Homo sapiens: one gene and its partners. The protein of the gene in region 1 purifies or fractionates together with the protein of each later gene. This does not show direct contact. Each region holds a gene or a part of one and is shown on either strand. Other genes may lie near its edges. The genes, in order: MEPCE, TRA2A, SART3 and PRPF3.

What was found.
Region 2: the proteins of MEPCE (region 1) and TRA2A purify together in Homo sapiens (affinity purification with mass spectrometry; 4 studies listed by BioGRID and IntAct, with this or other methods). This does not show direct contact.
Region 3: the proteins of MEPCE (region 1) and SART3 purify together in Homo sapiens (affinity purification with mass spectrometry; 7 studies listed by BioGRID and IntAct, with this or other methods). This does not show direct contact.
Region 4: the proteins of MEPCE (region 1) and PRPF3 purify together in Homo sapiens (affinity purification with mass spectrometry; 5 studies listed by BioGRID and IntAct, with this or other methods). This does not show direct contact.

Annotation. Positions count from the first base shown.
Region 1 is NC_000007.14:100,425,705-100,432,838, reverse strand, and holds the start of MEPCE (7SK snRNA methylphosphate capping enzyme), read right to left. Parts: upstream 3,009-7,134; 5' UTR 2,821-3,008; coding exon 1,150-2,820; intron 1-1,149. UniProt on the Homo sapiens protein: S-adenosyl-L-methionine-dependent methyltransferase that adds a methylphosphate cap at the 5'-end of 7SK snRNA (7SK RNA), leading to stabilize it.
Region 2 is NC_000007.14:23,507,961-23,514,981, forward strand, and holds part of TRA2A (transformer-2 protein homolog alpha), read right to left. Parts: intron 5,123-7,021; coding exon 4,934-5,122; intron 1-4,933. UniProt on the Homo sapiens protein: Sequence-specific RNA-binding protein which participates in the control of pre-mRNA splicing.
Region 3 is NC_000012.12:108,523,165-108,530,185, forward strand, and holds part of SART3 (spliceosome associated factor 3, U4/U6 recycling protein), read right to left. Parts: coding exon 6,978-7,021; intron 3,390-6,977; coding exon 2,935-3,389; intron 2,446-2,934; coding exon 2,293-2,445; intron 1,343-2,292; coding exon 1,152-1,342; intron 471-1,151; coding exon 293-470; 3' UTR 1-292. UniProt on the Homo sapiens protein: U6 snRNP-binding protein that functions as a recycling factor of the splicing machinery. Promotes the initial reassembly of U4 and U6 snRNPs following their ejection from the spliceosome during its maturation.
Region 4 is NC_000001.11:150,316,711-150,324,552, reverse strand, and holds the start of PRPF3 (U4/U6 small nuclear ribonucleoprotein Prp3), read right to left. Parts: upstream 3,021-7,842; 5' UTR 2,961-3,020; exon of another isoform or gene 2,415-2,960; intron 1-2,414. UniProt on the Homo sapiens protein: Plays a role in pre-mRNA splicing as component of the U4/U6-U5 tri-snRNP complex that is involved in spliceosome assembly, and as component of the precatalytic spliceosome (spliceosome B complex).

The DNA of each region.
Region 1 (7,134 bases):
ACAGTCCCGCGGCCTCACTTTAGCCCGTGGCCACTTTCTTCTCAGACTAACTCCCAAAAGGTGCCTGCCCTCTTTGAGTTTTGTTTTCTCCTCTACACCTTCCTGCCTCTGCTTCTTCCTACTGGTGGTAAGCCAAAAAAGGTCGACGGAGCCTGAGTAATTTTAAATGGTGCAAATTATCCATGAAGTCTTCCAAAGCTAGGGTCCCAGGACCATATCCTGTGTTTATTCTCACTCACAGACATTAAGTGGAGTGACTGCAGGTTCTGCAAGGGTAACTAACCCAGGTTTCAAAGGCAGACCTGTGGTTCCTTCCCTGCAGTTGGGGCTGGCAAAGTTTCAGGCCTATTCTTTCCTTTCTCTGAGAGAAATGAAGAGCCACATCCTTTAGGAAGCCTTTTCTAGAAGCTCAGCTCATCACAACCCTCTAAAAAGACCATTCTTCAGGCTTAACCCAACACAATGCCAAAGATCCCAGTAGGCAGCCTAACTGGAGTGTTCTCTGGGGAGCTGTGTGCAGTCAGGGGACTCTGCAGGGCACAGGACTCTCTCCTCTCTGCAGAGGAGTTTCTGGTTCTTCCCTCTCCCACTATCTAGGGTCAATGTGGAGAGGATCTACAGCCAAACCACTTGGGTTCCTGACACGCTTCAACAAACTGTCTAGGAAAACAAAAGCCGCTGATAGGAGCAAGGTGGCTATCAAAGGGCAGAAACGCCAGTATTAGTCTGTCGCTACCCTAATCTCCTCCCTAGAAGACATTCCATGTCTGACTCCCATTCTCAGGCTCCTTCAGTAAATCTGAGGACCAAGTTCCACCTGGATCAAATTCCCTAGTGAGCAGCAGCCTTCAAGGGAAGGGAAGGTGGACCAGTGTGGATTATAGGCCAAGCCGGGAGCAGAGCAAAAAGAGAGTCCTCCTCTATCTTGGAGATCCTTGCAGTCATGACAAAGGACTCCAGGGTCAATGCCCCAAGGTAGACACCCCACCTTTCCAGGTTATAAGAGGGGAGAGACGCCCAGCAGAGGCTCTCACTTGCCAACCCAGACCCCTCTTTTGAGGATCTGGGTCATAACCTTCCCTGCTACATTCCCATTTAATCTCATCTTCACACCTGGCCCCTATTCCAAGAGCCTCTGGACCCTCTTACCGTGACGAAGACAACATTGTTGGGGAAGACTGATGTGTCCGCTCCATCCAAGGGCACTTGGGGGGCAGCGATGGGACCCCGGCTGGCAGTCAGCGAGGCTGGGAAGCAGCTCCTCTTTCGAACGGTGGTGGTCCCTTCCTCACCCTCTGCCCCCGGGTCCCCTTCCAAAGTCTGGGGTGGGAGACGCAGCTCCTCGGAAAGGTAGTGTCGGATGTTTTGGCGGGCAGAATGGATGAGCCGGGAATCGATATCCAGGCCCACCATGCGGGACGGGCCCCACTTGCAGGCAATGCTCAGGGTCAGATGGCCCACATTGCAGCCCAGATCTAGGACGTCCCGGCCCCGAAACCACTCAGGCTTCAACACCCGAAGGCGCCCATCCTCACAGGAAGGATTGCGGTACCCATAGTATTTGCAATAATTCCCATACTGGAACTTGCGCTGTTGCTTTTTGAAGCCTGCTGCAGGCAGTGGGTGGTGGTGGTGGTGGCGGCCTCCCCAACTCCCTCGGCCCTTTTCCTTGGAACCCTGGCCTCCACCCCTAGCCCCTGCCTCCGACTTGCTGGAAGTCCTGCGACGTTTGCGATGTCGGGAGGAGGAAGATGGGGGTGCAGAGATAACTGAGGCAGCTGGAGGGGCTGATAGGGAGCCTGAGGGACCCTGCAGAGCAGATGGAAGGGGAGACACCACTTCATCCCTGCAGTTGATGGCTGTGTTGAGTTCATAGGGTTGGGGGGCATCCCGGTTCTGGCCCCTGTGCCGCGGCTGCTGTGAGGCGCCCTCCCCGTGGAGTAAGGGGGTGAGAGGGGCTGTGGGCGGCACGGGGTGACTCTCACTCCCTCCGGCTGCCTGCTGCTGCTGGTGGTGCTGTCCCCGGTGTCTATGCCGCTTCCGACCAGTCTTGAGTGGCGAAGCAAGAACTACATGGCCCTCATCAGTGCAAGTATTGAGACTGAGCGGGTCAGTAATATCTTTGGGGATGAGGATCTCCACCGGATCTCGCCCTTTGGCCGGAAGGGGGGATGACTTAGGGGTCTCCGCGTTGAGAGTGCGGCTCACTTCCTCATCCAGGAGGCTATTCAGGTTCAGGGGATCAAAGATATTGCCCCCCAGGAGGAAGTTGGAGGGTAACACAGAGTCACAGTCCGAATTCACCCGCCTGCGCCTCTTGAAGGCCGGATGTTTGAAGCCTCCCCCGCCTCCCCCTACATTACAGCTATTTCTCCTCTTGCCCCCGCCCCCCCCAGGTGGCCGGTGGGGCTGATAGCCATTGCGGGGTCGAGGAGGAGCAGGGGGACCCAGCTCTGTCCCGCCCCCTCCCCGGCGCTCCTCCCCCACGTCCGGGGGAGCGGCTCGCCCCGGGGGATCCGACAGGCGGGCCTCCCCATGCGACTGCGCCTGGGGGCCGCCCCCTCGGTGCTGCTGCGCCTGGGGACCACTGGAGGAGGTGGCCGCGGCCCCGGGGCTTTCCCGACCGACCGCAGCGGCTGGGGACCCCGCAGATGGCGCGCAACGACCCGGACCACGCTCCGTCCCGCCGCGGAGCTCCCCAGAGGCGGCCTCTTGGTGCGGTGGCACCGTGGGGCCGCCCCCTCCGCCCGACTCATCTTTGAGCGGCGGCGGCGGGGCCGGCACCAGAAACGGCTCCTTCTCCGCCGCCATCTCGATCATTTCCTCCCCTTATTCCGTGCCAGTCGGGGTAACGAGGGGGATCAGGGGGCCTAACCCCCCCTGCCTGGACCCTGCTCCCTTCCCCCCTTTCCCGAGTGCGCGCGCAGCTCTGCTCTTCACGCCTAGTCTCGCGCCCAAGCGCCTCCCCGCCAAGTGCGCCCTACTAGCCCGCGAGACCAAAACAAGAGGCCCGCGAGACCCGAACTACTCGAGGACTCAACCGCGCGTGCGCCGACCCCTTTCTCCTCCGCCACTACCACCCGGCCGCGAGCGCGCACGGTGAGCGCGCGTTCCCTTCGCCCGGGAACCACGCATGCGCACTCCGCCACCACCCTGGTTGCGCGCGCATCAGACTACGAACCAACTTAACGGCTCTGGGAGTTTAAATATAACCCCCCCACAGCCCCCGCAAAAGCCCACCACCCCAAACTGACACCCTACTTCCCTGCGCAGCTATGTCCGGCCCTACTGATCTCCTTTGTCTCTGCCGCGCGATCCCACCCACCGTAGGCGGGGGACGGGAGCTGGTGTGAAAAGGTCTCCTTGACACCCGACCCTTGTTCCTGAGGAATGAGTCTCAGCGGTCTCCGCCCGGCTCTAAATCCAACAACCTCCCCACCCCGCCTCCTTCCTCCCCCCTAGTGGGCAGCGCCTGCGCACACCCTTTTGGGCTTGCGCGGGTAGAGGCAGCACGTGCTGAAACTGGCGCCCCGCCCCCCGTCTTAGGGGTTGGGCCTGTGACGTCGCTTCCTTAAGTTTGGTAAACGCAGCGTGCGTCAGCGCGATCCGGAGGGGCGGGGCTTCCTGACGAAGGGCGGGGCTCATGAATTATTCATGAGCTGTTGGTAGCAAACCTCCCCCCCTCTGCCCACCTTCTTAGAAGCGCTTCCGAGGGAGCGGAGGGGAGACCCTACAAAGCCAAGGAAGGGCGGGAGTGGAACTGGGCTCAGTAAAACGCGATAGGTCATTATAACTCACCCCCCTTGAAAATATTCTCTGCTGAATTGGGGAAAAATAAAAAGCACTAAAACAGCCGATGTTGTCCAACTTCCTCTTCCCCCGAAACGGCTGAGTCGTTCTCTGGCTCCTCTACCTTCCCCCAATCGCAATCACCTGGAGACGCCACACCACGCCTTCCTCTCCGCCTCAACACCCACGACCCGAACCCCAACGCATCCGCCCACTCCCGACGCCCGCTCACTGGCCCGTCAGTTCGCGGGCCTCTCAACACCCACCGCGGCGCCACGCCGACTTATATACCAGCGAGTGTGGGCGGGGACGGGGGTTCGGTCCGCGCTGGGCCCCCCCAGCTTCTGCCAATGAGGAAGAAGCGAGTCTACGCCGTTTTCCCGGGGAGATGCGCCGCCCGGTCTCCCTGCCAGCGGAGTGCTGGGCCGAGGACAGGGCGGCAGGGGTGACAGTGGGGTCCAGGAGAGTCTCAAAATCCTAAGGTGAGGGCGTGAAGGAGACCAGCAGGAAGAGGAGGAATTAGAGAACGGAAAGAGGGAGGAAAAGGCAGTCTGAAACAGAAAAGTTAGTAGATGTGCTTCAGGAACAATCAGGCGCCGCGGCCGCCGCCTAAAAATATGTGACACCAAAGAGGATTCTGGGATTTGTAGTTTTCCCGGGACGTTCGGGTGGAAGATGGCGGATTTACCTCAGCTGCGGAAACGCAGACGCTGTTTCCAGTTGCGCATGCGCCTCGGCCCCGCGAGCGCACCGCCCTCGGGTGGAGCTAGTGCTCAGGGCGTCCTCGTGCCTTTTCTTGGTGGCGGGAAACCTGGGTTGAGGTGTGAGGGGCTTGCGGAGTCGCTGCGGCAGCTGGTTCCGCCCATCGCCTTTAGGTCCTCCTTGCTCCTGAAGGTAGCCAGCTAGTTTCTGGTTGTAGGTGAAGGTGCTAGGCGCTGCCAGTCCTGGCACCCGTTGCCTGAGGAGAAACTTTCTCAGGGCGACAACCAGCCCTTCGCCCTTTTTCCTCAGAATCTGTCGCCCCCAAGAAACAGACAAAAAAAAAATAGCCCAGTCTCCTGGCGGGCACCAACGATATGAGTGAGAATAAGGATCACGGGGCCTCGGCAGGAGTGGGGGTGGAGGGGAGATTCCCTCATGGTGGGAGGAAGGAAGGGAGGGGACGGGGAAGAGAGAGGGGGACGTGTGGCTCAGGGACACCGACTTGAACCGCTATCCCTGAGAGAGAATAAGGGGTGAGGGAAGAGAGGAAAAATGGGAGCGCCCCACAAATGGGAAGAACTTCTCTGCAAAACTTCTTCCCTTTGGATTGCAGGTGGATTTGGAATTGGGGCTTTTTTTTTTTTTTTTTTAAAGACTGTCTCGCTCTGTCGCCCAGGCTGGAGTGCAGTGGCGCAGTCTCGGCTCACTGCAACCCCCACCTCCTGGGTTCAAGCGATTCCCCTGCCTCAGCCTCCCGAGGAGCTGGGACTACAGGCGCCCGCCACTGTGCCCGGCTAATTTTGTATTTTTAGTAGAGACGGGGTTTCTCCATGTTGGCCAGGCTGGTCTCGAACTCCTGACCTTAGGTGATCCGCCCACCTTGGCCTCCCAAAATGCTGGGATTACAGGCACGCGCCACCGTGCTCGGCTGATTTTTTTGTATTTTTAGTAGAGACGGGGTTTCACCGTATTGGCCAGGCTGGTCCCGAACTCCTGACTTAAGGTGATCCACCCGCCTCTTCTTTCTTGTTAAAAGTTTTAAATCGGGCTTGCTGAGCTTGTGCACAAACACGAAGGAAGAAAGCAAGGGAGGGAAGGGGGAGGAAGGAAGGAGGGAGGGAAGGGGGAGGAAGGAAGGAGGGAGGGAAGGGGGAGGAAGGAAGGAGGGAGGGAAGGAGAAGAGAGAGAGGGAGGGAGGAAAGGGAGGAGGGAGGGAGGAGGGGGAGGAAAGGGGAGGGAGGGAAGGAGAAGAGAGAGAGGGAGGGAAGGAGAAGAGAGAGGGAGGGAAGGATAAGAGAGGGAGGGAGGAAAGGGGAGGGAGGGAGGAGGGGGAGGAAACGGGAGGGAGGGAAGGAGAAGAGAGGGAGGGAGGAAAGGGGGAAGGGAGGAGGGGGAGGAAAGGGGAGGGAGGAGGGGGAGGGAGAAGGGAGGGAGGGAGAGGAAGGAAGAAGGAGGGGAAGCAGGGAAGGGAGGAGGGGGAGGGGGGTAGGAAGGAGAGGGGGAGGAAAGGGAAGGAGGAGGGGGAGAAAGGAGAGGGGGAGGAGGGAGGGAAGAGGGAGAGAGAAAGGGAGGAGGGCAAGGAAGGAGGGGGAGGGAGAGAAGGAGGGGGAGGAAGGGATGGAGGGACAAAGGGAGACAGAAGGAGGGAAGAAGGAAGAGAGGGAGGGAAGAGGGAGGAAGGAGTAAAGGAGGGAGAGAGGGAGGGAGAAAAAGTGAGAGGGAGGGAGGAAACTGCTATTAGTTAATTGAGGCATGAAAATAAGCAGGAGTCCACATACTGTTATTAATGCAAAAAGGAAGATCAGACTCTGGCTTAAAAAAGATTTGAAATATACTTTTTTTTTTTTTTTTTTTTGAGACAGAGTCTCACTCATTTTGCCCAGGCTGGAGTGCAGTAGCACGGTCTTGGCTCACTGCAACCTCCACCTCCTGGGTTCAAGTGATTCTCCTGCTTCAGCCTCCCAAGTAGCTGAGATTACAGGCGCCTGCCACCACGCTGGCTAATTTTTGTATTTTAGTAGAGATGGGGCTTCACCATGTTGGTCAGGCTGGTCTTGAACTCCTGACCTTAGGTGATCCACCTGCCTTGGCCTCCCAAAGTGCTGGAATTACAGGCGTGAGCCACTGCGCCCGGCTGAAATATACTCTTTAAATACCGCTTTTTTGAGGCTCAGGGAGTCTGGGTTAGAGGACAATGCTAAAGGGTTTACTTCTCTTAGACCAAGGATTTGAGGAACAATATAAGGAAGGGAATGATTGGATGGTTAGGAAGAGGAAATTTGGGAACACATTCTGAATGGTGTGTGGGGAGAGAGAATTACTGTTTATTTAAAAAAGTATTGGCAATACTGACAAGTTATTTCACTAGGTCAGTTCTCAAACTTTTTGGTTTGAGAACCCTTTTATACCCTTAAAATTTATGGAGGACTCCAAAGAGCTTTTATTTGGTTTGTATCTGTTGATACTAACATTTTAGAAATTAAAATTCAGAAACATTTAAAGTTTGATTAGAAATAACAATAATAAATATGTTAACCTAAACAGGTTTTTATGAAAAATACATTCTCCTAAACAAAAGAAAATTTAGCATGAAGAATGGTGGTGGTTTACATTTTTGCAAATCTCTTTCATGTCTGGCTTAAT
Region 2 (7,021 bases), about 77 Mb from region 1:
TTCTAGTCTCCAGCGATTTCACTTACAAAGACTGACTTCAGAACATTAAAAAGGGTTTGCTAAGCTTTATACATGTTCTTTTTATAACCTGCCCCCAATCTTATTCTTTAGTTTGCAGTCTAGTACACTGATTAAGACTCAGTGAGCAGCCAAGAAGAAATGATATAAACAGACAAGAACAAATTTATCGTAATGCCTTTCAACCTTTTATTGAGACTGAACTAATAAAAGTATAATAAACTAATAAAAACTACACAATTTTTATGTATCCACAAATATTTCTCCGTAAGAGTGTCCCATAAACTAAAGGTCATTAAAAAAAAAAAAAAAAAAAAAAGGAGGTCTCACTCCATTGCCCAGGCTGGCAGTGGATCATAGTTCACTGTGGCCTCAAACTTCTTGGCTTATGCAATCCTCCAGCCTTAGTCTCCTAAGTAGCTAGGACCACAGGTTTGTGCCACCATGCTCGGCTAATTAAAACAAAAATTCTTGGTAGAGAAGGGGTCTAAACAGTATTCCATTCAATGGAATGCATTTTATTATTTATTTATGAGACCAAGTTTCGCTCTTGTTGCACAGGCTGGAGTGCAATGGCGTGACCTCGGTTCACTGCAGCCTCTGCCTCCCAGGTTCAAGTGATTCTCCTGCCTCAGCCTCCCAAGTAGCTGGGACTACAGGCATGCGCCACCATGCCCAGCTAATTTTTTGTATTTTTAGTAGAGATGGGGTTTCACCATGTTGGCCAGGATGGTCTCGATCTCTTGACCTTGTGATCCTCCTGCCTTGGCCTCCCAAAGTGCTGGGATTACAGGCGTAAGCCACCACGCCTGGCCTGCATGCATTTATTTTTGTAGAGACAAGATCTGTTGCCCAGGCTGGTCTCTTAACTCGTGGCCTCAAGTGGCCTTCCCACCTCAGCCTCCCAAATAGCATGAGCCGCCTTGCACAGCCTAATTCTTGAAGATAAGAGTTGTCTCTTTGGTCTCTTTGAAAAGAACTCTGAGAGTATTATTTGTTTCTGGGACAATTTTTTTTTCCTATTCTCTCACACACATATATATATTTGTAGAGACCAAGTCTCCCTATGTTTCCCCAGGCTGGTCTCAAACTCCTGGGCTCAAGTAAATCCTCTTGCCAAAGTGCTGGGATTAGAGGCATGAGCCACCACACCCGGTCCAATTTTTAAAAAGAACTTTACATCACATAAATGTCTGCAAAAGCAAAGCTGCAACAAATTTAACACATCTTCCATTTGAAGTTCCAAAAATCAAAATTCTCTAAGTTGATCTCCCTGCACCCCATCCTAAGCACCCCCCAAAAAAACACACACAAAATCTCTAAGTACTTCTTACTAAAACAGGGTGAGGAGCTTATATTATTATCTTCACCATATGCACACTAATAACTTTGAAACTTCAGTGAAATTTTCAGAATCAGGGAGAAGTTAGTCAAAAAGGAATACAAATTTTAAAAAGATTTTAAAAATCACTTTAGGCTGGGCGCGATGGCTCACACCTGTACTCCCAGCACTTTGGGAGGCCAAGATGGGGGGATCATGAGGTATCAAGAGATCAAGACCATCCTGGCCAACATGGTGAAACCCCATCTCTACTAAAAATACAAAAATTAGCTGGGTGTGGTGGCATGCACCTATAGTCCTAGCTACTCGGGAGGCAGAGGCAGAATTGCTTGAACCCGGGAGGCAGAGGTTGCAGTGAGCCGAGATTGTGCCACTGCCCTCCAGCCTGGCAACAGAGCAAGACTCCGTCTCAAAAAAAAAAAATCACTTTAGCCAAGTGAAGTGGCTCATGCCTGTAATCCTGGCACTTTGGGGAGGCCAAATCACTTGAGGTCCAGAGTTTGAGGCTAGCCTGGGCAATGGGGCAAAACCCCGTCTCTACCAAAAAATACAAAAATTAGCCGGGCATGGTGGTGCGCACCTGTTGTCCCAGCTACTCGGGAGGCTAAGGTGGGAAGATCACTTGAGCCTGGGAGGCGGAAGTTGCAGTGAGCTGAGATCGTGCCACCACACTCCAGCCTAGGCGACAGGGCAAAGAGCAAGACCTCATCTCCAAACAAACAAAGAAACAACAAACAAACAACAAAAAAAGAAAAAAATCAAATCACTTCAGATTGCCTGTCCCTAAAGACTGGAGACAGTCTCAGCCATACAGAAGAAACCATACAACATGCCTGTGTTAGCTGAGAATTCAGCCTGGGCAACTGAAAAGAGAAACTGTGATTTAGCTGACAAGCCTCGTCACCCCGCTCCTTAAGTAACATATTGTCACCTAGTGAACTAAAAGGAACTTCTAATCCTGCCACTAAGTAACTGCTCCTGTCTTTAAAGTTGCCAGTTAAGCTTTTTTTTCTTTTCTTTTTGAGATGAAGTGGAGTCTCACTCTGTTGCCCAGGCTGGAGTGAAGTGGCACAAACTTAGCTCACTGCAACCTCCGCCTCCTAGGTTCAAGCAATTCTCCTGCCTCAGCCTCCCGAGTAGCTTGGGGTTACAGGCGCTTGCCACAATGCCCGGCTAATTTTTGTATTTTAGCAGATGGGGTTTCACCCTGTTGGCCAGGCTGGTCTTGAACTCCTGACCTCAGGTGATCTGCCCGCCTCAGCCTCCCGAAGTGCTGGGATTACAAGGTGCGAGCCACTGTGCCCGGCCTGCCATTTTAGTTTTATCCAGAAGTGGAAGGGGACAGGTGGAATCAAGAGATAAACACGTTTCACATTAAAAAATATTAATAATAAAAAAATTACACTGTTCTGGCTTGCATTTTGCAACTTTTACTTCAGCTCAGATATCCTAGTATTTCTAAATTGATAACATGTATCTCTTAATTGAGAAAAGGAATATATAAATCACAAATACGTAACAGTAAAAAAAAAAATCATAAGACTGACAAATTAAGGCATTAAACTGCCTGTGACATAAATGACTTAAAAACTAAAGTACTAGTTTGTTAGAGTTATCCGGGGTTTCTCAACCTTAGCACTATTGACATTTTGAGACTGATTCTATGTTATGGGGTGCCAGCTTGTGTACTGTATGGTTATTTAGCAGTGTTCCTGGCTTCTACCCACCAGATGCCAAGAACTTACTGTTTTTAAAAGATAGCCTTATTTGGCCAGGCGCGGTGGCTCACACCTGTAATTCCAACACCTTGGGAGGCTGAGGCGGGTGGATCACGAGGTCAGGAGATTGAGATCATCCTGGCTAACACAGTGAAACCCTGCCTCTACTAAAAATACAAAAAATTAGCTGGACATGGTGGCGGGCGTCTGTAGTCCCAGCTACTCGGGAGGCTGAGGCAGGAGAATGGCATGAACCCGGGAGGTAGAGCTTGCAGTGAGCTGAGATCGCGCCACTGCACTCCAGCCTGGGCGACAGAGCGAGACTCCATCTCAAAAAAAAAAAAAAAAAAAAAAAAAAAAAAAAAAAAAAAAGAAAAGAAAAGAAAAGAAAAACACCCTGATTATTAAGGTCTAATAAAACTTCCAGATATATACAAATATATATATATTAATTTAAAAGACAGAAGGTCTAACAAAACTAAAAGTATTGAGCTTCAAATTCTTTAAAATGCAATTTTCTAAATCAATTACTATCAACTTTTAGTAAAGAGTAAGCGAGCCTAGGCCAGGTATGGTGGTTCACATCAGTAATTCTAGCACCTTGGGAAGCCAAGGCAGGAGGAACAGTTGAGGCCAGGAGTTGTTCCGAGACCAGCCTAAGCAACACAGCAAGACTCCCTGCAAAAACTTAAAGCAAGCCTACCACTTCCTTTATAATACCGAACATGTTAGAATAGCACTATTTCAAGTCATTGACATTGATTAGTTCATTGTGTTAGGCAAGTTAAGAATAGCACTAAAAAATTATCAATTCTTTCCATGTACTATTTTTCAATTATTGAACACACTGATAAATGAACATTTAGAGAATAGAAAAACAAGTTCCTTCCTCATTATAGACACAAAATTAAACATATCAAACCCACACATCAGAATTATTTTTTAAAAGTTAATGTAATCATCTGTTTGGAGCATCATTATGGCTTATTCAAAAGAGAACACTTACACATATACTTTTTCCATTAATTTAAACACATATAGCTCACTTTACACAGCCAGATTTCAATTAGGATATGCCTATAGCAGAGAGCATAACCAAAAAAAGTGAAACTGTAGTCACTCCAATTGTTAACACTGAGAGGCAGAGTTTGAATCAGGTCAAAATTAGAAAGGACACAACAGGCCATGTATGATGGCTCATGCCTGTAAACCCAGCATTCTGGGAGGATCACTTGAGGCCAGGAGTTCGAGATCAGCCTGGGCAACATAGTGAGACCTCATCTCTACAACAAAAAATTATCTGGGCATGGTGGCCCACACTTGTAGTGTCTGCTACTCAGGAGGCTGAGGTAGGAGGACTGCTTGAGCCCAGGAGGTCGAGGCTGCACTCCAGCCTGGGCAACAGAGCAAAATCAGCAAGATCCTATCTTTTTTTTTTGAGACGGAGTCTCACTGTGTCGCCCAGGCTGGAGTACAGTGGCGCAATCTCGGCTCACTGTAAGCTCTGCCTCCCGGGTTCGCGCCATTCTCCTGCCTCAGACTCCCGAGTAGCTGGGACTACAAGCGCCGGCCACCACGCCTGGCTAATTGTTTGTATTTTTAGTAGAGACGGGGTTTCACCGTGTTAGCCAGGATAGTCTCGATCTCCTGACCTCGTGATCCACCTGCCTCGGCCTCCCAAAGTGCTGGGATTACAGACATGAGCCACCGCGCCTGGACGCAAGATCCTATCTTTAAAAAAAAAAAAAAGAAAAAAAGGAAGAAAAAAGGATGCAATGTTTACAGAAATAAGTCTATTAATCAACTTTTCACACTAATTCAGTACTATAATCAGGCATATAAAAGACAAATTTACCTCCTTTGAGTCATCTATTCTCTCAAAATACACAAAAGCAAATCCTCGAGATCGCCCAGTTCGCTGATCATAAACCACATTGACACCACTCAATGGTCCATATCGAGAAAATACTTCACGAAGATCCCTCTCTGTTGTGTACAAACTGAGGCCAAACACTCCAAGGCAAGTGTTGGGATCTGGATTTGCCTATTGAATGGAAATATTATTTAAAACTCCAAATTAAAATCAAAATCAAAGAAACACAGAAATACTTTGTTTAGAACACCTCATCTAATACACAATAAATATATTGTTTCTAATAATTTGGAGATAAGATTTTAAGAGAACTAGAGCAGATGAGCCATATTTTACAATTCACAGTACACCCAAGGCCTTCTTTGGGATATGCTTTCTGTCTATAGCCTGAATTAAAATGTTCTTACTCTCCAGCCCAGCAATGTTCATAATGTATCCTGAAAATCTTGTAATCCCAGCATTTTGGGAGGCTGAGGTGGGTGGATCACCTGAGGTTAGGAGTTCGAGACCAGCCTGGCCAACATGGTGAAACCCCATCTCTACTAAAAATACAAAAATTAGCTGGGCATGGTGGCCGGCGCCTGTAATCCCAGCTACTCCAGAGGCTGAGGCAGGAGAATCGCTTGAATCCAGAAGGTGGAGGTTGCAGTGAGCCAAGATCGAGCCATTGCACTCCAGCCTAGGCGACAAGAGTGTTAGAAATGTTTGTTTCTCGGTGTTGTAAAGAAATAGCACTTGAACATACATTTTTTTAGTAAGGCCATTTTTATTTTCTGTAGAAAGGGTACGCTTGTCAGCAGTTTTGTCACAAGAGTACACTGAACAAAGGAGACAGGGTCATTTATAATCTGACGTGTCTACCTTACTGTTGTGTCTGTTTTTTATTGGCTGGAATGGGACTTCACATTCTGATTTGTCTTGATTGGCTAGTAACTTCAAACTTTTTAAAAGAGGCAAAGGCGGAGGAGAACAAAGGAAGGAGGAAGTAATTTGTGGAATGTTGAGAAAGGTAAAAACACCTTTAAATAAGGAAGAGGAACAGGCTATGACCTAATGCTTGTTTGGACCAGTATAAGCATGTTAGGGCAAATACTTAGGCTAAATTGTGGGAGCTAAGAACATAAAGTACATTGATTTTTTTACTACGGCTAGTAGATTTTTTTTTTTTTTTTTGAGACGGAGTTTCACTCTTGTTGCCCAGGCTGGAGGGCAATGGTGCGATCTTGGCTCACCGCAACCTCCACCTCCCGAGGTCCAGCCATTCTCCTGCTTCAGCCTCCCAAGTAGACGGGATTACAGGCATGCACCACCACCCCCAGCTAATTTTGTATTTTTAAGTAGAGATGGGGTTTCTCCATGTTGGTCAGCCTGGTCTCCAACTCCCAACCTCAGGTGATCCACCCCACCCGGCCTAGCAGATATTTAAGAATGTTAGCACAGCTCTTTGAATAAATTTTGCTTCTAAGAGAAATTATTATCTATTTCTAATTAGATGGGGAGGAAAATCTCTTTGAACAACCTTTACTTTTTATAAGAGTGAAACTCCGTCTCACTTATAAAAAAAAAGTATCCTCAGTTTAATACCATCTTTCTAGTTAATTCAAATGCTTTACATCCCTTACAGATTTGTACTTAATCTGACTTCATCTGTAATTGTTGATTTAGACCTCCTCTCCTCCATTTTCTTTCTTTTTTTTTTCTGAGACAGGGCCTCACTCTCTTGCCCAAGCTGGAGTTTACTGGCCTGATCATGGCTCACTGCAGCCTTGGCCTCCTTGGGCTCAGGGAATCCTCCCATCTCAGCCTCCCAAGTAGTCGGGATTACAAGCGTGAGCCAATATGCCTGGCCCATTTTCATTCTTTAGCGAGGATATTCTTTCAGTGTTCCCACAATCCAGATTTTAGAAATAAATTTACAGATTTCAAAACATTAAATAATGACATGCTCCACCACAGTTTAAGTTAGTATCCTGTGGGAGAAGCATAGTACAGCATGCAAACATGTTCTAAGAACTTTAGAGCCCGGCTGCCTGGTTGAAACCTAGACTGCTAGTTAGCAAAAACTAAACC
Region 3 (7,021 bases), on another chromosome or scaffold:
TTCTCGTTTCGCTTCTGTGCCTCAGTCTTTAAGATACAAAACTATCTCAGGACACCACATCCTGGGCCCAGCCTGCAGAGTGGTCACTTTTCTGCCACTGCCCTCAATATGAGGGAGCACTGAAAGGCTCTTGACTTAGAACCCCTTCCCCTTTCTGTCTAAAGCCGAGGAGCCATCTGTGGTTGCGAGCACGCAGCACACCAGGCCTGTCCATCCCCAGTGCACTGCTGGGTGGTGGGAGGTCCGCCGGGCCAGAGTGAAGTAAGGCATTTCCTGTCTCCCAGCGTCCCGTTCACTTTCTCAGAAACAGCTTGGCAAAATCGGCATTGGACATCTTGGGTGCCTCGGTGGCTGCTGGGGCGGCAACTGCAGGAGCCGCGGCAGGGCCGTTCTCAGCCTGAGGAGCTGCAGCACTTGGGCGCTGCAGGGCACGAGGCAGTAGAGACAGCTGCGTCCTTCCCTTCCCCCTCCTAAAAGAGCAAACACTGAATGGACCTTTTGAAGCAACAATTCGTGGCCCCTCATTTATTTGTGAAAATAAGCCAAGACAGTTTTAATATAACCAGAAGTTAAAAGGTGAAAAAAAAAAAGGATAAGATAATCCCTGCCTCCTTAATTCTGTTTATGAAGTAAAAACTGCTTCAACAGACTTGGCCTTGTTCAGTTTTGGCAAAGATCAACCCTGAGCACCAGTCACACTCAGAGGGGATCAGTGTGACTATCACCTCTCAGACCTCACCAGTCACCTGGCAATTCTGCTATCTCCTCCTCATCCCAAACCAGCGAACAGCACAGCTTATGTGGATCATAGCTAGGGCCGTAGACTGGCACACACATGGGTATGAGATTTCTTTGTAAACACACAGATCCAACTGGCAAAGGGGACTTTAAAATAATCACTGCCTTATTTCTGTCTGAAATAAATGACAAGTGTAAATTGGCCAGTACCAGGCAGAGGTCACTGCCTAGGCTTGCATCCTGCTCTGGACGCCTTGCTCCAGTGGAACCACAGTGATTACCACAAGGAACAGCACATCTTGGCTTTTCTGTCCTAACAGGAAGCTAATTCATCCCGGGTTAATCCCCCCGTGATCCATGAACTGGTGCCAGCCAGGACGAAGTTTGCACTAGTCTACCATGCAAGCACTTACGCTCCGTATGTCTGCGGCAAAAGCATGGGGCCACCTGGTGCCTTCCTGGTCTCCGGCTTCTCTGGAACTTTCCTCTGAGGAGGGTTGCTGATTGCCACTTTGATGATGTTCTCTTTGATAGTCATGCCGTCCATCTTCATCACAGCCTGCGACGCCTGGGATTCATTTTCATACTCCACGTAGGCCAGGCCCTGGAAGAGGCAAGATCCAGAACCAAGTCAGATCCCGCAGACTAGGGACGCAACCTCCTCCTGCAGGGCAGGCACTGGGCTTCCTCCCGGAGACCAGCAGACCAGGCCACAGCAAACGACCCACCAACAGGTTACCTTCCCCACCACCGCATCCTCTGTCTACAGGCTTATTTCCCCACCCTACTCTCCTTCCCGAGTGCTGCTATGCACTGTAACTTCAGATAACCCTTCCAAGTTCAGCACACCTTGTACGTGCTGCAGAAGTAGAAAGAAAGAAGGAAAAAGACAGATGGACCAGTATAAATCCAGCAAATAAACCAAGAGGTGGATGGGACACAGGGCCAGCAGCCCAGGTGCCCAGGTGAGCCCTCGTGTTTCTGTGCCTTCACCCGCTCCCTCATTTCATCCTCTTTTTCTCTCCATTAACCTGGATAAAGGGGAGGGAGAGTGGGCAGTGGGTAGACAGTAATGAAACCACTTACTACTCAAAATGGGGCACAAAAGGACTTAGCAGGAGACTGAGGGGGCAAGAAGGAAAGACAGGAGAAGAGGCACTGCAATGGAGGGACTCAAGGGGCCTGGTTGGAGGCCCCAGAGAAAGAGAGGCCTGGGACAGAGGGAGAAGGCTGCAGGAGGGCGCCCACCCCAAAGCCCGTATGCTGCTGGTCACAGGGCTTCCCCCAAGCCCCACAGCCAGGGGCCATAGTGTGGTGAATTCATGATCCTCTATTTCCAAGTGTCTTATTCTTTTTAGTACAATTAACTACAAACAGGTTAATCTGACTCCAAATATAAGTAGAGCTAAGTGCAGATCTTTCTGTGAAATTAACTTTTGTTTCTCAGCAGACAAACTAGGAACCCATTCTAGAGGTTAAATCATCTTTGAACCGATACAGAAACGAAGTTTGCCCAAGCCTTGAAGACAAGGCACAATCTGCTCTGACTCTGACCTTTGGTTTGCCAGCCCGGTTGGTGACCAGCCTGAGGTCCTTCACGGTGCCATGAGCCTTACAGATTTCTTCTAGTTCCTCTTTAGTACAGGAGAAAGGCAGGCCTGAGATGAACAGCTTGTGTTTCTCTAGGGAAGTGCTGTACCTGAACACCTATAGGAAGAAGGAAGACAGAGAAAAACCATGATTCGAGGCATGACCCAGCTCACCTGACTCCTCTGACACCAGCCTTGTCCCCATGAGCAGCCCAGCCAGGCAGACTAGAGCCAAGCCATGCTCTGAAACTTGTTAATGGGGCCACCGGAGCGAGTCACTTAACCTCTCCAGGCCTCCATGTCTTCCTCTGTAAAACGGCAAGAATAAAAGTAACCATTCACAGAGTCTCATGAGGAGTCAATGAGCTGACACACATAAAGCATTCAGCACAGTCCCTTGTCATTGCTAAGCACCCAGCAAGAAGGAGCCATGCCATGAGTCAGACCTCAGTCAACCGGCTCAGGATGGACCTTGGCTCACAAGGAAGTTTAGATCCAAACAGAGCGTAAAACTTCCATGTCTATCCTAAATATCACTGCTGCAGGAAGAAAGTGCCTGTCTAAAGCAACCACAGATGAAAGGCATTCTTTTTTTCCATAAACCTACCTTAAAATCGGGGTTTTTGCTCTTATCCACACAGGGGGAAACAAACATTGGCCTCCCTTCTACACTTTTCCGGTCCATCTCCAGTGCCTGAAGGGCTGATTTCTCTTCTTTAAACTCCACGTAGCAGTAACCTCGGAAATCCCCACGGTTGCTGAAGATGGGTCGGATCTGGACCACCTCCCCACAGGCCTCGAAGAGTGGCCTGAGCTTCGTGTCCGGCTCCTGCATGCTGTAGGGCAGGTTGCTGACAAAGACGGTGATGCTGTCCTTGCTGCTGTCGTGCAGCACCTTGGGCATGTCCCTCTTCAGGGAGGCTGCCTTCTCCTTCTGCTTCGAAGGGGGCTCCACATCTACGGCAGCACATTTCCCAGCGGGCCCTGCTGCTACTTCTACATTTTGTGTTTCTCCAGCTGCAGGGATGCTGTTCTCGACCCTTCTGCGTTTGGAAGGCTGCTCTACAGGTTTTCAAAAGAAAAGTAGCCATGGTTAACTGTTACTTCTCTTCAGGGAGCTTGAACAGAGGTGTGAAGTGAAAGTGCTGTGACAGCTGCATGTGACACTTACTCCCTCACCAGACTCGGAGGGGCAAGCACCACCCCGAGAAGTCTTTTGTGATCCGCCTGACCTGTCCCACGACTTTCTGTGCCCCAATTACACTCGGGTAAGTGGGCTCAATCAAGTGGAAGTAATAACATAAATCCCCATTGTCCACTCTTAATTATACAAAAGGTCAGTGGATCTCAAAGTTCAGAAGGCAAATTCCAGGGCCCCTCTCCTACAAAGCCCAGATCAGCAGGGTTGGGATAGGACATGAGAATCTGCACTGGAAAAGCACCCTAGTGACTGATACCCGTGCCCCAGGGAGCACATTTTGGAAAGCACTACAAAGGATCTGTGGTTTCTAAAACACTTTCAATATGGCCTTGTGTCCTTAAGAGAGCTTAACCACAATCTTCTACTGCAGTCTGTCCTCACCACTGCCTCCAGAGGGCCAGTACTGAAGCTCAACAGACATCAGCCTCCGGCAAACAGACCTCCCCATCAGTTCACCCGCTGCCTTTCCAATGCAACGTAAGCCCTGCACACTGCTACTGTATTCAAGAGTGTCCCTGGGCTGGGTCCAGCTGACTGGCCCACCTACCACTCCAGCCTCCTCGACCACTGCCCCACCCCTCTCTAATGCATCTGAGTTCAAACCCAATTATCTGCTGCTCACAGAAAATGCCAGGCTGTGCTGTGCCTTCAGGCTGTACTAACATTGGCTCCTCCCTGTGTAGCTCAGACCTTCCCTTCTCGCTGCCACAGTCACTCGGTCTTCCCCCTGGATGCCGCATCTCTTCCCCCACAGTCTTCCTGGTACGAAGTTGACCCACTAGTGCCTTCTTTGGCCTCCACCAGTATTAACAATGCCATCTCCCACAGTCCTGATCACACGCCATGCCCTGATCACACACCACTGCGGTCACACATCACATTTGCCTTATTCTGCCAAACTGGGAGGCCAGTGGAGCAATGAGCCATCCTCAGTCATTTAGGAAAGCCCAAACAAGGTGTGCAAGCAAGGTCAACTCAACGATGGATGACTCCATTCCCAGTTCTCTCTGGCTCACACATCTGTATTAAGAAAGTATACAGAGTCCTTTCAAGTCCAGAGACAATTCTTTTTTTTGTTTTGTTTTGTTTTTGAGACAGTGTCTTGCTCTCTCTCCCAGGCTGGAGTGCAACGGCATGATCTCTACTCATTGCAACCTCTGCCTCCCGGGCTCAAGTAATTCTCCTGTCTCAGCCTCCCGAGTAGCTGGGAAAACAGGCACCCGCCACCACAGCCAACTAATTTTTGTATTTTTAGTAGAGGCAGGTTTTCACCATGTTGGCCAGGTTGATCTTGACCCCTGACCTCAGGTGATCCGCCCACCTCAGCCTCCCAGAGTGCTGGGATTACAGGCATGAGCTACCGCGCCCAGCCACCAGAGACAATTCTTTACCTTGACTGACTCTCTGAAATAAATATGACCCAGAGCTGCCCGTCCCTGAAATTACAAGGGTGAAAGAAACACTGCTGGAAAATTCCACTAAGTCAGAACCATTAAAAGCAGGGCCAAGGCCAGGTGCAGTGTCTCATGCCTGTAATAACAGCACTTTGGGAGGCCAAGGCGGGAGGATCACTTGAGGTCAGGAGTTCAAGACCAGCCTGGCTAACATGGTGAAACCCCGTCTCTACTAAAATACAAAAATTAGCTGGGCATGGTGGCTGGCAAAGTGTAATCCCAGCTACTTGGAAGGCTGAAGGAAGAGAATCACTTGAACCCAGGAGGCGGAGGTTGCAGTGAGCCGAGATCACGCAACTGCACTCCAGCCTGGGCGACAGAGCGAGACTCCCTCTCAAAAAAAAAAAAAAAAAAAAGTAGGGCCAAGCCTGGCAGGTCTGTGCAGGGTTGGGGCTGCAGCAGTGGTGCGGGATGCTAGAGCCTGAATGGAAGGAAGAAGACAGGCAGGCATGGGGCAGTGACAGGGACCCAGCAGCCTAGATCTGGAAGCCTGAGTGAAAGAAGCAAGGGTGTCCATGCAGGGCCGTGCCTGGCCCCGGGTGTGGGAGACCAAACAGGGTGGGGATGGCACATATGAGAAGGGGAGGCAGGCACAGGAAGTTGATTACATACCTACAGGGGCCGGGTGGAGTAACTGAGGATGCTGAGAATAGAGGGAGCCAAGTTTCTCAAGGTCAGAGAAGGGCGTGACACAGCTGGGCACAGTGGCTCACACCTGTAATCCCAGCACTTTGGGAGGCCGAGGCAGACAGATCACTTGAGGCCACAAGTTCAAGACCAGCCTGGCCAACATGGCGAAACCTGATCTCTACTAAAAATACAAAAAATTAGCCAGGTATGATGGTGCATGCCTGTAATCCCAGCTACTTGAGAGGCTGAGGCACAAGAATCACTTGAACCCGGGAAGCGGAGGTTGAAGTGAGCCAAGATCACCCCACTGCACTCCAGCCTGGGCAACAAAGCGAGACTCTGTCTCAAAAATAAATGAATAAATAAATTTTAAAAAGAGAGAGAAGGGCATTGCAAGTGTGAAGGGGAACCCTGTGGTGTTAGACCGGAACTGGAGGTATTGGTGTGAAATCATGACTTTCAGTATATACAAATAGTTACACAAGTAAATATGGTCATAAATATGTGTACACATGCACACGCACACGCACACACACACACACTCCCTACCCTCGACCACTCAGGCCTCAGAACAATAACCAACAGCAGTGAGCACAACTAGCACCTTCTAAATACCACTCATCACTCAAAGGAACCTTGGAGAAATGATGGATTCCAGGGCTGAGTTATGGAAAGTATAAGATGACCCTTGGGTATTGTGTGCTAGAAGGTAAGGAAATGATCAAAGAACAAGGGGACAGGTCAAAGGGACATAGAAGCCTGTGTGAAGGAACTCTTGCTAGCCAAACCTGGGATAAGTAGAGAATCAGCATAAATAATTCTCAAAAGGGTCATCACCAGTGATGGAACAAAGCGAATCACAGTCCACCTGATGGGACTCAATGGGCAGGCCACAGGAGCACTTGTGCACTATTCCTGCCCGAGATGCATGAGTGGAATCCAATGCTTAGGGAGCATCAGACACACCCAGGCTGAGGGGCACAACACAGCAACTGGCCTGCCCCCTTACAAGACTGCAGGTCATCAGAGTAAAAAAAAAAAGCTGAGGAGTGCTCCAGACTCAAGGAGATCCAGGAGACAGGACAACTAAACACAATAGTGCATCCTGAACCGGATCCTTTCACTACAAAGGACATTATCAGGATAAATGGGAACCCATAGCTCATTGCTAACCCCGGCTCTGATGGCTGCATTCTAGTCATGTAGAAGAGGGCCCCTTGTTTGCAAGACATACACCCTAACAGTGATCAAAGGGTAATGGGTATCAAGCTGGTAACGGTTCAGGGAAGAAAGTTCTTCATACTGTATTCGCAACTTCTCTAACTTTAAGACGTTTCAAAACACAATTTCTCAAGAGCTCCTTACCTTCTTCATCATCGCCCCACTCTTTCTCATCATCCTCATCTGCT
Region 4 (7,842 bases), on another chromosome or scaffold:
TAAAGTGATCCAGGGAAATGGTTAGTACATCAGGAATGCATTCCCCAGCCCTATTCTCAATCCCTAGACAAGTTTTTCCAACTCATTTGAAGGCAAATATTTTCCCCAAGAACCATATCTCAAAGCAGAAAGAGATCCCATTTGATTTTTAATTCTAACTCTTAAGTTGATCAATGAAATCTGCGGAATAAACAAACTCTGTGAATAAGCTAAGTCTGAGAAATTAGTTCTAGCTTCTTTCTTGATCCTGTCATATCAACAAGGACTTGCAAACCTAGTAACACTAAAACAGAACTAAAAAAGCCCATCCAGAGGCCAGCTTTTCCATTCTTCCTACTTCCAGGCAGGCATTCCCTAACCCAACCCTGACTTATGTAGGATTCCCTTCTTTTAAGGTATGCAAGTAAAAGAGGGTTTATCCAGGTCAGTCATCTTAGATATTAAATTAAATCTCATGATCTTTAAGAATGTTCTGGCCGGGCGCGGTGGCTCACGCCTGTAATCCCAGCACTTTGGGAGGCTGAGGCAGGTGGATCACGAGGTCAGGAGTTCAAGACCAGCCTGGCCAAGATGGTGAAACCCCATCTCTACTAAAAACTACAAAAAAATTTAGCTGGGCATGGTGGCAGGCGCCTGTAATCCCAGCTACTCGGGAGGCTGAGACAAGAGAATCACTTGAACCCAGGCAGCAGAGGTTGCAGTGAGCCAAGATCGCGCCACTGCACTCCAGCCTGGGCAACAGAGTAAGACTCCGTCTCAAAAAAAAAAAAAAAGAATGTTCTGTCACATTTCTCTGTGGTCATATTCATCCCAGTGGGAATTCTGCATACAGGTAATTATCATGTTCAATCTACAGGGTCTCCATCAGCTGACTTGATGATCCTTCAGCTCAGAAAAGAATACCCTCATTTTTATTTTGAGACAGAGTCTCACTCCGTCGCCCAGGCTGGAGTGCAGTGGCGTAATCTTGGTTCACTGCAACCTCCATCTCCTGGGTTCACTTGATTCTCCTGCCTCAGCCTCCCAAGTAGCTGGGACTACAGGCATGCACCACCACGCCTGGCCAATTTCGTAGTTTTAATAAAGACACGGTTTCACCATATCGGCCAGGTAATGCCTTACCTCAAGTGATCTGCCCACCTTGACCTCCGAAAGTTCTGGGATTACAGGCGTGACCCACTGCACCTGTCTCTACTAAAAATACAAAAATTAGCCAGGTGAGGTGGTGGGCACCTGTAATCCCAGCTACTTATGAGGCAGAGGCAGGAAAATCACTTGAACCCAGGAGGCGGAGGTTGCGGTGAGCCAAAATCATGTGCACTCCAGCCTGAGCGACAGAGTGAAACTGTGTCTCCAAAAAAAAAAAAAAAAAAAAAAAAGCCAGGTGCGGTGGCTCACGCCTGTAATCCCAACACTTTGGGAGGCCAAGGCGGGTGGATTATCTGACGTCAGGAGTTCGAGACCAGCCTGGCCAACATGGTGAAACCGCATCCCTATTAAAAATACAAATATTAGCTGGGCGTGGTGACCTGCACCTGTAATCCCAGCTACTCTGGAGGCTGAGACAGGAGAATCCCTTGAACATGGAAGGCGGAGGTTGCAGTGAGCCGAGATCGCACCACTGCACTCCAGCCTGGGCGACAGAGCAAGACTCCGTCCCGGGGAAAAAAAAAAAAGGTGTCTAAATGGGAGTCAATAAATTGACTGACCTCAATTTCCAAGCTCAGCTATTCCCAGCAGTGCCACTTATCAAAGATCTGGGAATCATCTTTCAAGATGTTTTAAGACATCTTTTCTCCAAAAAATCCAGTCTGATTAACTTCTACATTCTTGGTAAGTTTAGCCTCTATACTAGAGTCTATAAGACTTGATGCCAAATAGACTCACTTTTGGTATATCCAAAGGAAGCTAGTAGATTGAAGTGATGAAACTAAGACTGAAAGATTTTCTGCCTCAGTGACAAGTTACGTGAGTAATTCTATGGTGGTTCTATTACCCCACAATGAGTAGACATACAGCGTACCAATTTCTACATATTACACATGTATTGCACAAAAGCGGCATATCCAGATGCCATAGAAAGTGAAAACAAGAGTTCACACAGAAACAGTTGGGACACTGAGCCCCACCATTTACAAGCCCTTGGGCAAGTTAAGTAATTCTTTGGAGCCACAGTTTACCATCTTACAAAATGAGTACTGCCATATTTACATCCTAATTCATTCAATAAATATTTATTGAGTAACTACTAAGTGTCAAGCAATGTACTAGGTGCGGTGGATACATAAAACAGTGAGCAAAACTAACAAGAGTCCTCACCTTAACGGGTCTTATATTCCACTAGAATTGAATGATAGGCTAGAAAGTATAAGCAATTTGAAAGCCCAAAGCAATAAATGAGGTGCCACTGTTACCTCCATAAGATGACGTGCAAACTAAACAGCCAATGGATAAAAAAGTTTCAAACGGTAATTAGCCTTGTCACTAATCAAATGCTCAACAATAACTGCGAGGTGCGGGGGTAGTGGGGGTGCGGAAGGAAAGCGAGGTACAATGATCTCTCCTCTCAATGAGCAGGCAGCAGAATCCAAATCCAGTCTTCAGAAGGAATTCCTTACTCCGTGCTCTTGTTTGCTACAACCTGAGTTTCCCTCTGCAGCCCCCCACTCCCCCGCTAATCTTCATTTTTACTCTCTCCGTCACTCCAACCAGTCTCTTACTCTACCTTGTTCTACCTAAACTCCTCACCCCAGAGCTGGTCTCCCAACCCGGTCTCCTTCCCGCCCCCGCCCTTTTCCTCTCAACAATCTCATTCCAACCTCTTCTCCCACCAAACCAGGTACTCCTTTCACACTCCTTCCCGCTGAACCCTCCCGCTTCGGTCCTCCCCTTGGACTGAGTCCCCGGCCACAGTGGCGCGGACTGGAATTACCCTCTGTGGGCCCGGGGCCACTACTCACCTCACAAACTTCAGCCCCTGAGACGGAGCCCGAACGTTACACCGGAACCGGAAACCTTCTGACCGCCCTACGGCGTGCCGTCGCTACCGCCACCGCCGCCGCCACGCCGCTGTCTCCCAACACGTGACCAAGGAGGGCCGGGCCGCCAATTCGCGCAGCCGTATTTGCCACTTTCTTGGAGGCTGAACGCATGCGTCGCAGAACCGAAAAGTTTCCCTGAGCAATTTCCTTGCTTTCTATTTCCCAGGCTAAACCTATTAGCTAGATTTCTGCCAAGGTTTTTTTTTTAGCTTTTTTTTTGAGACGGAGTCTCGCTCTGTCGCCCAGGTTGGAGTGCAGTGACGCGATCTCGGCTCACTGCGAGCTCCGCCTCCCGGGTTCACGCCATTCTCCTGCCTCAGCCTCCCGAGTAGCTGGGACTACAGGCGCCCGCCACCACGCCCGGCTGATTTTTTGTATTTTTAGTAGAGCCGGGGTTTCACCGTGTTAGCCAGGATGGTCTCGATCTCCTGGCCTCGTGATCCGCCCGCCTCAGCCTTCCAAAGTGCTGGGATTACAGGCGTGAGCCACCGCGCCCGGCCGATTTCTGCCAAGTTAATGTCTTTAACTTCCTGAAGCGGAAATTGGGCTACTTGCTGTTTTCCTCATATGGAGAATAAGTGCGCAAAAGTAAACTTAGGCTAGAATGAAGAGCGAGGCTTCTGCGTTTGTGTTCAAACACAGCCTTTCTGGTAGAAAGTAAACCCTTTCTCCCTAATTTAACAGTGGTGTCAGGCCGGGCGCCGTGGCTCACGCCTGTAATCCCAGCACTTTGGGCTCAATAAATGACAAGTGAGACCTACCAGTATTGTTTTCTCCATTCTATCAATAGGTCTATATATTAACTTCTCTCCAAAATGAGGCTCTAACCTACTGACCCTTTATTTTTTATTTTTATTTTTTATTTTTTGAGACGGAGTCTCGCTCTGTCGTCAGGCTGGAGTGCATTCGGCTCACTGAAACTTCCGCCTCCCGAGTAGATGGGACTACAGGCGCGCGACCACCACGTCCAGCTAACTTTTGTATTTTTAGTAGAGACGGGGTTTCACCATGTTGGCCAGGATGGTCTCCATCTCTTGACCGCGTGATCCGCCCACCTCGGCCTCCCAAAGTGCTGGGATTACAGGGTTGAACCACCGCGCCCGGCCCCTACTGACTCTTTAAATCGATGATTCATAACAACATGTGTGTGGACAAAGATAGTTTGGAAAAAGATTGTCCAGTATTATGACACAATTTCTTATATGAGAAATGGAAAAAATTCCATTATTTTTATATTATAAACTATCCAAACTAAAGTTCCAAAATGTCTTCTTGGTGGTAGGCTGACTAGAAGATGCAGTTGTTCTTCAGGGAGGTTATTCACATTCCCCAGATAGTAGGAGATTTTTGTATCTAAAGATAACAATGTACATACCAAGCCCCACCTTCCCTGATGGGGCAGCACGACATAACAGGATAAAGCCTGGCTCTGAAGGAACAAGTTGGGGGAGTTTGAACCTACTGCTCAACTTATTCACAAATCAGTTTCCCCACCTACAGCTTCTAACACCAATGTCTCACAAAATATTCACTCAAAAAGTCTGTTGAATGGGTTAATGAGTTTCAACATTGCAGGGTTGTTGTAAATTTATTTTGTTTTGGTGCTTCTAACAGTCTGCGTTCAATTCCCTATGGAGAAATGTGTTTCTAGAAACTGGTTTTAGGCCAGGTGTGGTGGCTTACGCCTGTAATCCCAACACTTTGGGAGGTCGAGGCGGGTGGATCACTTGAGGTCAGGAGTTTGAGACCAGTCTGCCGACATGGTGAAACCCCATCCCTACTAAAAAAAATGCAAAAATTAGCTGGGTGTGGTGGTGGGCACCTGTAATCCCAGCTACTCAGGAGGCCGAGGCAGGAGAATTGCTTGAACCCGGGAGGTGGAGGTTGCAGTGAGCCAAGATCGCGCCACTGCACTGCAGCCTGGGCGACAGAGGGAGACTCCATCTCGACAAAACAAAACTGATTTTATTTCCAATTTTTAGAATTGGATACATTTAAACTGTAGCTTTCCGGTTACTAGCTGTGTTTCCTTCAGGTAATTTTTTCTGAGATTGTTTCCTCAATTATAGAATAAGAATCTCTACTTCAAAAAGGTATCGTGAGGATTAAATGTAATGTGTAAGACACAGTGTGGTACTGGCGTAAGAACAGGCAGGTAAACCAACAAAAGAGAATAGAGGGTCGGGCGCGGTGGCTTACGCCTGTAATCCCAGCACTTTGGGAGGCCGAGGTGGGCAGATCACGAGGCCAAGAGATCGAGACCATGCTAGCCAACATGGTGAAACCCCGTCTCTACTAAAAATACAAAAATCAGCTGGGCGTGGTGGCACGCGCCTGTAGTCCCAGCTACTCCGGAGGCTGAGGCAGGAGAATCACTTGAACCCGGGAGGTGGAGGTTGCAGCCAGCCGAGATTGCACCACTGCGTTCCAGCCTGGTGTCAGAACGAGACTCTGTCTCAAAAAAAAAAAAAAAAAAAAGGAAGAATAGAGAGCCCAGAATAAACACTCACATATATGGTCAGCTGTATTTTTTTTCTTTTTCTTTTTTGAGATGGAGTTTCGCTCTCATTGGCCAGGCTGGAGTACAATGGCGCGATCTCGGCTCACCGCAACCTCCGCCTCCCAGGTTCAAGCAATTCTCCTGCCTCAGCCTCTGGAGTAGCTGGGATTACAGGCAAGCGCCACCACGCCAGGCTAATTTTGTATTTTTTTTCTTCTTTGTTTTGAGACGAGTCTCGCTCTGTTGCCCAGGCTGGAGTGCAGTGGCACAGTCTCAGCTCACTGAAACCTCCGCCTCCTGGGTTCAAGCAATTCTTCTGCCTCAGCCTCCTGAGTAGCTGGGACTACAGGTGTGTGCCACCACGCCCGGCTAATTTTTTGTGGTTTTAGTAGAGACGGGGTTTCACCGTGTTAGCCACGATGGTCTAGATCTCCTGACCTCGTGATCTGCCCGCCTCGGCCTCCCAAAGCGCTGGGATTACAGGCGTGAGCCACTGCACCCGGCCTCATTTTGTATTTTTAGTAGAGACGGGGTATCTCCATGTTAGTCAGGCTCGTCTCGAACTCTGGACCTCAGGCGATCTGCCTGCCTCGGCCTCCCAAAGTGCTGGGATTACAGGCATAAGCCACCGTGCTCGACATTTTTTTTTTTAGACGGAATCTCCCTCTGTTGCCCAGGCTGGAGTGCAGTGGCTCAATCTTGGCTCACTGCAACCTCCACCTCCTGGGTTCAACCAATTCTCCTGCCTCAGCCTCCCGAGTAACTGGGACTACAGGCGCATGCCACCATGCCCAGCTAATTTTTTTGTATTTTTATTAGGGGTTTCACCATATTGGCCAGGCTGGTCTCAAACTCTTGACCTCGTGATCTGCCCACCTCAGCCTCCCAAAATGCTGGGATTACAGGCATGAGCCCCTGCACCTGGCCATGGTCAGCTGATTTTTGACAAAGGTGCCAAGGCTATTCAATGTGGAAAGGACAGTCTGTTTAACAAATGATGCTGGGAAAAGCAGATATCCACAAACATAAGAGTTAAATTGGACCCCCTACCTCATACCGTATACAAAAATTAATTCAAAATGGATCTAAGACCTAAATTTAAGAAATATACAAAAACTAGAGGTCGGGCACAGTGGCTCACCCCTATAATTTCAGCATTTTGGGAGGCTGAGGCTGGAGGATGACTTGAGGTCAGGAGTTCAAGACCAGCCTGGCCAACATGGTGACTCAATCCCCGTCTCTTCTGAAAATAGAAAAATTTACCAGGTGTGGTGGCACACTCTTGTAGTCCCAACTACTTGGGAAACTGAGGCAGGAGAATCGCTTGAACCCAGGAGGCAGAGGTTGCAGTGAGCTGGGATCACGCAACTGCACTCCAGCCTGGATGACAGAGGGAGACCCTGTCTCAAATAAGTAGATACATACATAAAAGTAGGGCTGGGCACAGTGGCTCACATCAATAATCCCATGCAACTGCACTCCAGCCTGGATGACAGAAGGAGATTCTATCTCAAATAAATAAATGTAGGGCTGGGCACAGTGGTTCATATCTGTAATCCCAGCACTTTGGGAGGCTGAGGTGGGTGGATCACTTGAGGCCAGGAGCTCTAGACCAGCCTGCCCAACATGGTGAAACCCCATCTCTACTAAAAATACAAAAATTAGCTGGGCATCGTGGTGCATGCCTGTAATCCCAGCTACTCAGGAGGGAGGCACTAGAATCTCTTGAACCTGGGAGGCAGTGGTTGCAGTGACTCAAGATTATCCCACTGCACTCCAGCCTGGGCCACAGAGTGAGACTCTTTTTTTTTTTTTTTTTTTTTTTTCGGAGACACAGTATCGCTCTATCCCCCAGGCTGGAGTGCACTGTTGCGATCTCAGCTCACTGCAACCTCTGCCTCCCAGTTTCAAGCAATTCTCATGCCTCAGCCTCCCGAGTAGCTGGAATTACAGGTGCCCGACATCACGCCCGGCTAATTTGTGTATTTTTAGTAGAGATGGGGTTTCGCCATGTTGGCCAGGCTGGTCTGCAACTCCTGGCCTCAAGGGATCTGCCTGCCTTGGCCTCCCAAACTGCTGGGATTACAGATGTGAGCCACTGCGCCCAGCCTGGGGTGAGACTCTTGTCTCAAAAAATGCCTAAAACTAAGGAGCAATAACTGTAAAACTCTTAGAGGAAAACACAGGAGAACAGGAGTGTATCTTTTTGACATTGGATTTGGCGATAATTTCTTGGATATGATGCCAAACATACAGGCAAACAAAGGAAAAACAGATGAATTGGACTTCATCAAAATTTAA